Linked DNA regions of Homo sapiens. The protein of the gene in region 1 purifies or fractionates together with the protein of each later gene. This does not show direct contact. Each region holds a gene or a part of one and is shown on either strand. Other genes may lie near its edges. The genes, in order: TRIM35, OTUD5 and LIMD1.

Region 1 (3,655 bases):
TTAAGCACTGTGAGTCCCATTATACAGAGGATCAAGTTAGACCCAGAGGAGGTAACCTTCTTGTACATGTCTCCTGGGGACACATGGGAACTCGTTTCTTCATAATATATTCCTGGGGATAAAACTGCTGGGCCACCATATGTGTCTTCACTTTACTGCGTAATGCCAAATTGTTTTCCAAAGCAGTGGTACCAATTTTTACAGCAAGAGCAATGTTAATAGAAAATGTTTATTGACCACTTCAATGTTTATTTTTAAGTACTCAGTAAAGTATTGTCCATTTTTCCATTGCGTTGCCTGCCATTTTCCTAACTGGTTTGTGGGAATTTATTATATATACACAATGTATGTCCTTGATTAGTTAGAGGTGTAATGAATATTTTCTACTTCATCATTTATCTTTCTTAATTGAAATATGGCCAAATTTATTAGTCTTTTCCTTTAGGATTAGTATACTAGTTTTAAGAAACACCTCCCTACACTGAGATCACAAAAACAATCGTATTATTTCCTCAAAGCTTTATAGCTTTGCATTATTATTGTATAGCTCTGTAGTATTTTCTCAAAGCTTTATAGCTTTCCTTTCACATTTAGGTCTGATGTGGATACCTGGAGTTTATTTTTGCACATGGTGTGACCAGGTAGCTCATTGTCTCAGCACCATTATTTAAAAAGACCATTACTGCCCACTGGTCTGCAGAGCCACCTCTGTCTTAAATCAGACACAGATCTGTTTTTTGGTTCTCTCCATCTGTTTCTCTGGCCCATCTGTTTATCCTTGTGCCAACATCACACAGCCATAATTTCTATAGCTGTAAAAAAGAGAGGATTTCTGATAGGTTTCTCTTCAAGAATGTCTTGGCAATTTTTGGCCCTTTGAGGGTCATATAAATTTTAGAATCTGTGAAGTTGCATAAAAATAATCATGTTGAGATTTAGATTAGTACAATATTGTCTCTATAGATCAATTTGGGGAAAACTGAAAGGCTTAAATACTGACTTTACTAATCCACGAACATAATATATCACACCAGTTACTTAATGTTCTTTGATAGCTCTCAACGAAGTATATTTTTCCCTATCAGAGTTTTGCGTATCTTTTATTAATTTCTTCCTAGTTATCTTATTTTTTATATTATTGTAAACATATTTTTAAATTAAAAAAACCCAAAACAGGGTCCCCCTCTGTCACCCAGGCTGCAGTGCAGTAGTAGCACAATCATAGCTCACTGCAGCCTCCTGTGCTCAAGTGATCCTCCCACCACCTCAGCCTCCCAAGTAGCTGGGACTACAAGCATGCACCACCACACCTGGCTAATTTGTTTTAACTTTTTGTAGAGACAGGCTGGACTATGTTGTGCAAGCTGGTCTGAAACTCCTTGGCTCAAACGATCCTCCTGCCTCAGCCTCCCAAAGTGCTGGGATTACAGGTGTAAAACTCCCTGCCTATATTTTATTTTCTATTTGCTAGTGATACATAGAAATACAACTGGTTTTGCATCTTGATTTTGGATTCAGCATTCACCTAAACTTATTAATACTTATGATTTAACTGTAGAATCTTTATTTTCTACACATAGAAATCTCAGTGCAAAAATATGCAACCATATTATCTACACATGCCAGTTTTGCTTCCCTTCTTTCCAAACCTTACATCTTTTATTTATAATTATTGGCTTACTTCATTGACAAGGCTATCCCACACAAAACTGAATAGAGTTGGTCATAATGCGCATTCCTGTCTTTTTCTTGATCTCAATAAGAAAGCTTTCAATGTTTTGCCATTAAATGTGATATTTGCTGTAAGTTTTTTTGCTAGATATACTTAATCAAACTAATGAAATTCCTTCCATTTCTAGTTTCCTGTTTTTTTAAACACAAAAAGATGGTAAATTTTATCAAATGTTTTCTCACTGAGATAATTATATTAAGCAACACAGAATTAGGTTTCGTTTTCTTATCCAGTCAGATCAACATTTTCATTTAACTGGAGTATTTAACACATAATTACCGATATGTTTGCATTTAAATCTGCCACCTTGTTCTGAGCTATTTGTCTTGCTTATTCTATTTTTCTTTTTCTTCCTTTCCTTTTTTAAAATTTACTACACATTTTTTATTCCATTTTCCCCTTCTGTGCATCTAGTGGTTCACCTAGGAAATATGACATGTAAGAAGTGTGAATTTGAATGCATCTAAACAATATTATTTTGTTTGCTTTTGGTATTAATTTTAACCCTAAATATGCTTAGATTACAAATAGAACTACCACTCAAGGGGCCTGCCTGTAGCCCAAGGAGCACATGAATGAGCAGAGATGGGCAGTAGCAGGGGCCCACAACAGATCTGGAGCATCCCCCAGCCCAAGCTCAGGAGAGCAAACAAGCTTCGATGTTAGCATCACATTATAACATTAAGATTTTTTATTTATTTATTTTATATTTTTTACTTTTTTGAGATAGAGTCTCATTCTTCTTGTCCAGGCTAGAGTGCAGTGGCGCAATCTCGGCTCACTGCAACCTCTGTCTCCCAGATTCAAGCAATTCTCTTGCCTCAGCCTCCCAAGTAGCTAGGATTACAAGTGCCTGCCGCCATGCCCAACTAATTTTTGTATTTTTAGTAGAGACAGGGTTTCACCATGTTGGCCAGGCTGGTCTTGAACTCCTGATCTCAGGTGATCCGCCCGCCTCGGCATCCCAAAATGCTGGGATTACAGGCATGAGCCACCGCGTCCAGCCTACGTTAAAGATTAGTTATAAACACACACAAAATAGGTTTTTATTCATACTAAAGGATCCAGAATGTGATCATATAGACTACATGATTTCCCAAAAATGACAAGTTGATTCCTTAAGCAACAAATTTCAATTGCATATTGAAGATCTTAAGCACTTTACAAAATCACGTTACCCACAATTTTCATTAACAGGACAGGTGCTCTGTGGTATAGCTGGAAGCAGGAAGGTAGGGGCAAGGGAAAGAATGAATTTCATTGCACAAGGTCTTCATAGCCTCTTTGCAAGGACTTACCAAAGTGCTAGAGTTGCATGTGAAACCAGCTCTGTCTGGCCTGAGCCAGGTTTTCTGTCTTGTGAGACTTGATACACACTGTTGCTCTGCCTGGTTCCCACCTGCTTCCCCCAACTAACCCAACATCACCTTGAAAACTCGGCTCTAGTACCCCTCATTTCCTCCAGGAAGCCCCCCGATCTTGCCAGCTCAGGTTCCATTCCAGGGCATCACAGCACCCTGGCCACCTCTGTCTCAGCACTCACTATCCAGGGTAATAGCTTCTCTTTCCTGAGGGCAGGTCTTAACCTCCAGGTCCTCTCTACCTTGCATAGTGGTGCTCGGTACACTTCTGCAGAAGGAATGCTTGCTCTGCAAGGTGAGAGACTTTGTTTTGTCCCCTGCATGTCCAAGTCCCTGCACAAAGTAGATGTTCAGTTAACCACCTGCCCAGTCAATGAGTACATGGAATGCCTGTGTTTTTTCTGCTATATACCTTGCCTCCTGGACTGAAGGTTAGGAGAGCTGGTTTGGAGCCTTGTCTTTGTCACTATCCACTGGTGAGTTGGTAAAAAGTTCCTTCTCTCTTCGGCTATCAGGCTCCTCACCTTAAAAATGAAAGCAGAGAAGTCTCTACAGTCTCCCA
Region 2 (2,697 bases), on another chromosome or scaffold:
GAGGCCGAGTCGGGTGGATCACCTGAGGTCAGGAGTTCAAGGCCAGCCTGGCCAACATGGTGAAACCCCATTTCTACTAAAAATACAAAAAAGTTAGCCGGGGGTGGTGGCACTCACCTGTAATCCCAGCTACTTGGGAGGCTGAGGCTGGAGAATCCCTTGAACCTGGGAGGCGGAGGTTGCAGTGAGCCGAGATTACCCCACTGCACTCCAGCCTGGGCGACAGAGCGATACTTCGTCTCAGAAAAAAAAAAAAAAATAAGTCCCAGGTTGGAAGGCACCTGACTGCTCCAGTCTCAGTGCCTCAGTTGAGGTGGTTTGGGGGTTAGAGTCAGGTCTTACAAGCATAGGAGTTTGGAATGACAGGTCCCACATCCCAAGCCTGCTTTCCCTTGGTCCCCAATCAAGAGGTAGTCTGTGGAGTGTTGCTCTTTGGGAGTACCTGCTTTCCTGTCTCCTTTTTTTTCTGGGGCCTGTGGGCCTACCTCGCTGAGCCTGTTCTGGCTCTTGGGCAGGTTCAGTGTGTTATTGCACATCCCTGTTCCTCTCCCTCCTTGCAGTTTGCAGAGCAGTCTCTGATGAAGAATGCCATAAAAACATCGGAGGAGTCATGGATTGAACAGCAGATGCTAGAAGACAAGAAACGGGCCACAGACTGGGAGGCCACAAATGAAGCCATCGAGGAGCAGGTGGCTCGGGAATCCTACCTGCAGTGGTTGCGGGATCAGGAGAAACAGGCTCGCCAGGTCCGAGGCCCCAGCCAGGTGGGTCATGGACTCTGTCACAGGCTTGGCCAAAAACTCATTACTTCTCATGCTTTGCCCTCAAGCGAGCAGAAAAAAATTAAGCAGTTTTGACATCTGGGAGGGAAGGAAGCATCCAGCACCATCTGTAACTCATCTTGGTCTTAGTTTTGGCATTGTACCTTGGAACTTTAAATACTTGTGCAGAACAGGCACTTAAGGAGTGAGAGGAGGGCAGCCATGCTGCTGGTGACACGAGAATAATGGATAGCTTCAGAGACACAAGCTTTTGTTGACTGCCCTTGTGTGCCAGGTCTCTACTGAGAATGTAACATCAGATCTGGACTACTCTGCCCTCAACGATCTCGTCTGTTGGCAGAGACAACTCAATGGTGGGGTCCTTGACCCTGACTGGGAGATCAGTGGAGGTGGGGGCTCCGGTTAGTCTTCACAGAGGAAGGTTGAATTGTTAGGGGAGCGGGGAGGGGCGGGGCAGACAAGCATCTGAGGAATTGTAAAATCGCAAGGAGTTTGGAGTGATTGTAGATGTTGGCTGGCAGGAGCTGAGTTTTTTTTTTTTTTTTTTTTTGGAGACAGAGTCTTGCTCTGTCGCCCAGGCTGGAGTGCAGTGGCGCAGTCTCGGCTCACTGCAAGCTCCGCCTCCCAGGTTGATGCCATTCTCCTGCCTCAGCCTGCGGAGTAACTAGGACTACAGGCGCCCACCACCACGCCTGGCTAATTTTTTGTATTTTTAGTAGAGACGGGGTTTCACCGTGTTAGCCAGGATGGTCTCCATCTCCTGACCTCGTGATCCGACCACCTCGGCCTCCCAAAGTGCTGGGATTACAGGCGTGAGCCACCGCACCCGGCTGAAGGAGCTGAGTTTTATTCCACAAATACCTACTACCAGTCTGTGGCAGGCCCTGTTTTCAGTATATGGGGATACATAGGTGAGCCCAGCAGACCAAGATCCCCGTCCTTGTGATGTTCACAGTTTTGCAGAGTGAAATAAAATAATAAATATAATGAATAAATTAGTTGGGAAGTGCTATGGATGGAAAGTGTAGAGCCAGGATAAAGGGGCTGAGCAGGAATGTGCGTTCACGGTATGAAATAGCGCAGTCAGGGTAGGCCTCAGAGCAGGTGAGATTTGAGCCTTGCAGAAGGTGAGAGTTAGCTGAGCGCACATGGAGGGGAGGACAGCAGGCCCACACACCTGGTACAACTCAGGCACAGCCCAGAGGGAGGCCGGTGTATCCGAACAGAATGTAGTAGTAGATGAAGTCAGAGAGGTTGTGGGTCCAATTGGGTAGGGGCTTGTGGGCTGTGGCGAGGACTTTGGCATTTACTCTCAGAGAGGCAGAAACCATGGGAGGATTGTGAGCAGAGGACGGACAGGATGTGGTTGGGGATTTAATAAGATCGCCTTGCCTGCTAGTCATCCAGTGGAGTCTGGTGAGTGAGGGCAGAAGCAGGGGCCAGTGAGGAGGAGGCTACTGCAGTAGGCCAGGTGACTGGTGGCCAGTGCTGGCAGTGGAGTTGGTGAGAAGGGGTTGGATTTGAGATCTATTTTCAAGATAGAGGTAACAGGGTTTCCTGTCAGATTGGCTGTAGGGGTGTGAGAGAAAGGGTAAGGAGCTCCACCTCTGTCCTGTGAGGAGTCTTGTGGTCCACCGTGTGAGTGGGGATGATGTTGACCTACATAGAAGCTGTATCATAGCCAAGGTCCTGGGAAGGGAGCCAGCATTCAGGGATGGGTCACAAGAAGGTCATGGCTGCTGGTGGTCCTTAACGCATTTACCTTCCCCGCTGCAGCCCCGGAAAGCCAGCGCCACATGCAGTTCGGCCACAGCAGCAGCCTCCAGTGGCCTGGAGGAGTGGACTAGCCGGTCCCCGCGGCAGCGGAGTTCAGCCTCGTCACCTGAGCACCCTGAGCTGCATGCTGAATTGGGCA
Region 3 (3,655 bases), on another chromosome or scaffold:
ACATTCACAAGAGAGACAAAGTGACCTTACAAGTCACTGCATCAGGACCTTACAAGTCTCAATCTTAAAGGTCCAGTAAAAGAAACTGCTGATTCTTGGGATATGATTCTCCAAGGCCTCTCACATTTTTATACATCTGGTAAGAATAGACACCAATTGCCAGGTTCCAGACTTATATTTTCAAGGATGTTTATCTAGTGAACAGTCTTGGATGACAGAGATAGTGTCTGTCTCTGGAGCAAAAGTCAGGCAGGCTTACTGCCCATTATCAAATACCAGGGTCCCCTAAGCATGGGGGTTCCTCTTGTAATGCAGCCCACTGCGTGTGCAGGTCTCACCTGGCCCTCTTCTTGGGGCCTGGGGCTCAGGGAACCAGTGTAAATGCTGATAATCTGGCCACTGCTATTGCTATAATAAACTGTCCTTTGTCTCTGACCTATGAGTCTCATAACTTCTGCCAGGATCCATGAACCCATGTGGTGTGCTCACTTTATTAGCCTGCAAGTAGGGTAAAATCTCATACCCTTCACAGGTTTGCTACCTATGTGGTACTTTTAAGAATCCAGAGCTGTAAAAGAAGACAAAGTCCAGGTAGCAAAAAACAGTTTGCTGACTCCACACACAGAAAAGACCCAGGAAATATAATGTTCAAGGAGCACTTTAATAGTCAACAAATTGATGCAGTTTTGTCACAATACTTTGCATAATTTTATAGTAACAGTAAAATTCTGAATCACTTTATAGTAAAAGAAAAGACACAGAGGAAAATAATTTCCCTGTACAATGAAATTTTCATACACTATATGAAGATTTCCCACATCTGTCAAGTTTTGGCTCAGAATAAAAGATAGCTAATATATTTCACTCTTTTTTCTGTTACTTTTTTTTTTTTTTTTGAGACAGTGTTTCGCTCTGTTGCCCAGGTCGGAGTGCAATGGCACCATCTCGGCTCACTGCAACCTCTGCCTCCCAGGTTCAAGCGATTCTCCTGCCTCAACCTCTCAGGTAGCTGGGATTACAGGCGTGCGCCACCAAACCCAGCTAATTTTGTATTTTTAGTAGAGACAGTGTTTCACCATGTTGGTCAGGCTGGTCTCTAACTCCTGACCTTAAGTGATCCACCCGCCTCAGCCTCTCAAAGTGCTGGGATTACAGGCGTGAGCCACGGCGCCTGGGATTACAGGCATGAGCCACTGTGCCTGGCCTTTTCTATTACCTTTAAAAGTTACTTCACATAGTAAAGAAATTAGGACTGATTCTTGGCATAAAGGAGGGTACAAAAAAAAATTGTGCCAGGTACAGTGGCTAATGGCCATAATCCCAACACTTTGGGAGGCGGAAGTGGGCAGATCACTTGAGCCCAGGAGTTCCAGACCATCCTGGGCAACATGGTGAAACTCGTCTCTATTAAAAATACAAAAATTAGCCAGGCGTAGCCAGTCATACACGCCTGTGGTCCCGGCTACTCGGGAGGCTGAGGTGGGAGGATCACTTGAGCCCAGTAGGTGGAGGCTGCAGTGAGCTGAGATCGCGCCACTGCACTCCAGCCTGGGCAACAGAGTGAGGCCCTGTCTCAAAAAAAAAAAGAAAAGAAAAGAAAATTTGGTTTCCTGGCAGATAGAGTTTTAACAAGCGCATCAAGCAGTAATAATTTGTGGTCTTGTGCTCAATTCTCACACATGATCTTTGCAAGCGTCCCAGCAGCCATCACAGCTCTACTTTCACATGCATGGGACACAGCACAGAGCAGCAGCCTTGAAAGGACTGCAAAGAGGTGTGAATTCCAAACATTCTCTTAAGTCCTAACATTTCTGTTCTTCATTTTGTGTGACAGAAGCCCATGGAAACAAGGCGATGACGGCGCTTGAGGGTGACCAGACCTCCTCAATCATTCCATCAGCCACCCAGGACTCAACAGCAGAACCTCAGAGGACTCAGCTGAAAGAGGTTTTCACTCGAGCACTAACCACAGAGAAATGGGAAGTGCCATCCTGCTGTCATACGCAGCCGATGGCTGGGTAGGACTAAATGCCCTTCTGTGGTGAGATGAACCAAGACGGCAGATGGGGGAATAACATCAGTGAGAGAGAGATTACGAATGGATCCTTGTATTGCAGATCAAACTGGGTTGTCTCTTCTCAAACCACCCAGGCAGTTTCTGAATGTCCCAAGATAGGGGTAGGAGAAAAGAAAAAAAAGACAAAACAGGAGACGGTGGGTAAGAAAACCTAAAAGGCACAATGAGGCAAAGGCCTAAGATGGAGGCTGGCTTTGGGATCTGAAATCCGGCCACAATCCTCCTTGTTTTACCTCAAGTCCAAGAATTGTCAAAAAGAAAACCCAGAAGGGCTATTCATTCTAAATTTTAAAATCTTTTCTTCCTGGCCTACCAAGTCCTTGTGTTTTCTTTCTAGGCGCCCATAAATACAACCCCATTACAGTTCTATTTGGCTAATAATTTACAGAACATTTAAAATACCGGGTAGGTGAACATCTCTTCATGGCTTTTGTGTAAGGGCCTGAAGCGAAGAGAAAAACAACTGATTGGAGATTCCTATCTGGCGCCTTCTCCAGGGAAACTGACAACCAGAGAAATCTGTTGCTAGGATTTCTAGGACATCTGGAAATTCCCTTTTTGTTCTTTCTCAACAATATAAAATGGTATATTCGCAAACCTATCTGAATCACCTCAATCTAGGCCACTTTGAAAATTTCATTTAAAAATGTAATCACAGATTTTTAAACTAATTACCCAATTTGCAAACAAATCCCAGCTACTTCTGGTCTTGAACATGGAGCAAAGGTGTGTCAGTAAGGCCAACATTCTTAGGTTGACAGAGACAGGTTAACACATTGGCTGGCTTCATTTACCCCCCTGCCACGCCCCACACTGAGCTGGATGATTTGATGGGAAGAGAGGGTCCCCACCTCAGGGTTCACTTCCCCAGCCCCAGCGTTCATGGGTTTTCAGGAGGCTCAGCCTGTGAAAAAGAACCAATGATGATGCACACCCTGGCTGAAGTGACATCTGGCCAAAGGATTCCAACAGAATGAATTCCATCAACATGGAAAAGATAATCCATGGCACCAATTCTGTGCTGCTTACAGGCAATGGTTACCAAATGAGTCAAAACATGGCCTAGAAGTGGAGCCGGGCCCAATGAAAAGCCTGAGTTCACACGTGCTAGGGGCTCCACTGACCGGCCTCTGCAGCCCAGCACCCAGTCCTCTTGCTCTGGGTGCAAGGTGAGGAGGCAGAGTGCACACACCGGCTCCTGTGTCCCCGGCCTGGCTGGCAATGGTAAAATGGGCTGCCTTTCTTTTGCAGCTTCTTCTAATCGAAATACCAAAGGGTACTGACCTCTGGCCTCAGGGATGTGACTTGCAGTGCAAATTTTACCTCTTCAGTGCAGAGAGTGGTCTTGAAATCTTGCCAGTGTGTGGCCCTCCCTCAGCTCCTGCCACCCTGGGGAGCCAGGATGCTGAAATGCATAAGGCAAAAGCACTGAATCGGATCTATTCCCCACTGACCTTTAGTTACGATCACTCTGCCCTGACCAGCTGGAGTTGGGCCTGTGTGAAGCCAGTGATTTCCAACACACTGAAGAAGGTATCTGAGTCCAGTGTGAAAGCCAAATTCCTCCTGAATCTGTGA

Evidence for each region.
Region 2: the proteins of TRIM35 (region 1) and OTUD5 purify together in Homo sapiens (affinity purification with mass spectrometry; 2 studies listed by BioGRID and IntAct, with this or other methods). This does not show direct contact.
Region 3: the proteins of TRIM35 (region 1) and LIMD1 purify together in Homo sapiens (affinity purification with mass spectrometry; 2 studies listed by BioGRID and IntAct, with this or other methods). This does not show direct contact.

Annotation. Positions count from the first base shown.
Region 1 is NC_000008.11:27,301,256-27,304,910, forward strand, and holds part of TRIM35 (E3 ubiquitin-protein ligase TRIM35), read right to left. Parts: intron 3,589-3,655; exon of another isoform or gene 3,506-3,588; intron 1-3,505. UniProt on the Homo sapiens protein: E3 ubiquitin-protein ligase that participates in multiple biological processes including cell death, glucose metabolism, and in particular, the innate immune response.
Region 2 is NC_000023.11:48,923,914-48,926,610, reverse strand, and holds part of OTUD5 (OTU domain-containing protein 5), read left to right. Parts: intron 1-560; coding exon 561-764; intron 765-2,558; coding exon 2,559-2,697. UniProt on the Homo sapiens protein: Deubiquitinating enzyme that functions as a negative regulator of the innate immune system. Has peptidase activity towards 'Lys-48'- and 'Lys-63'-linked polyubiquitin chains. Can also cleave 'Lys-11'-linked ubiquitin chains (in vitro).
Region 3 is NC_000003.12:45,678,251-45,681,905, reverse strand, and holds part of LIMD1 (LIM domain-containing protein 1), read right to left. Parts: 3' UTR 1-3,655. UniProt on the Homo sapiens protein: Adapter or scaffold protein which participates in the assembly of numerous protein complexes and is involved in several cellular processes such as cell fate determination, cytoskeletal organization, repression of gene transcription, cell-cell adhesion, cell differentiation, proliferation and migration.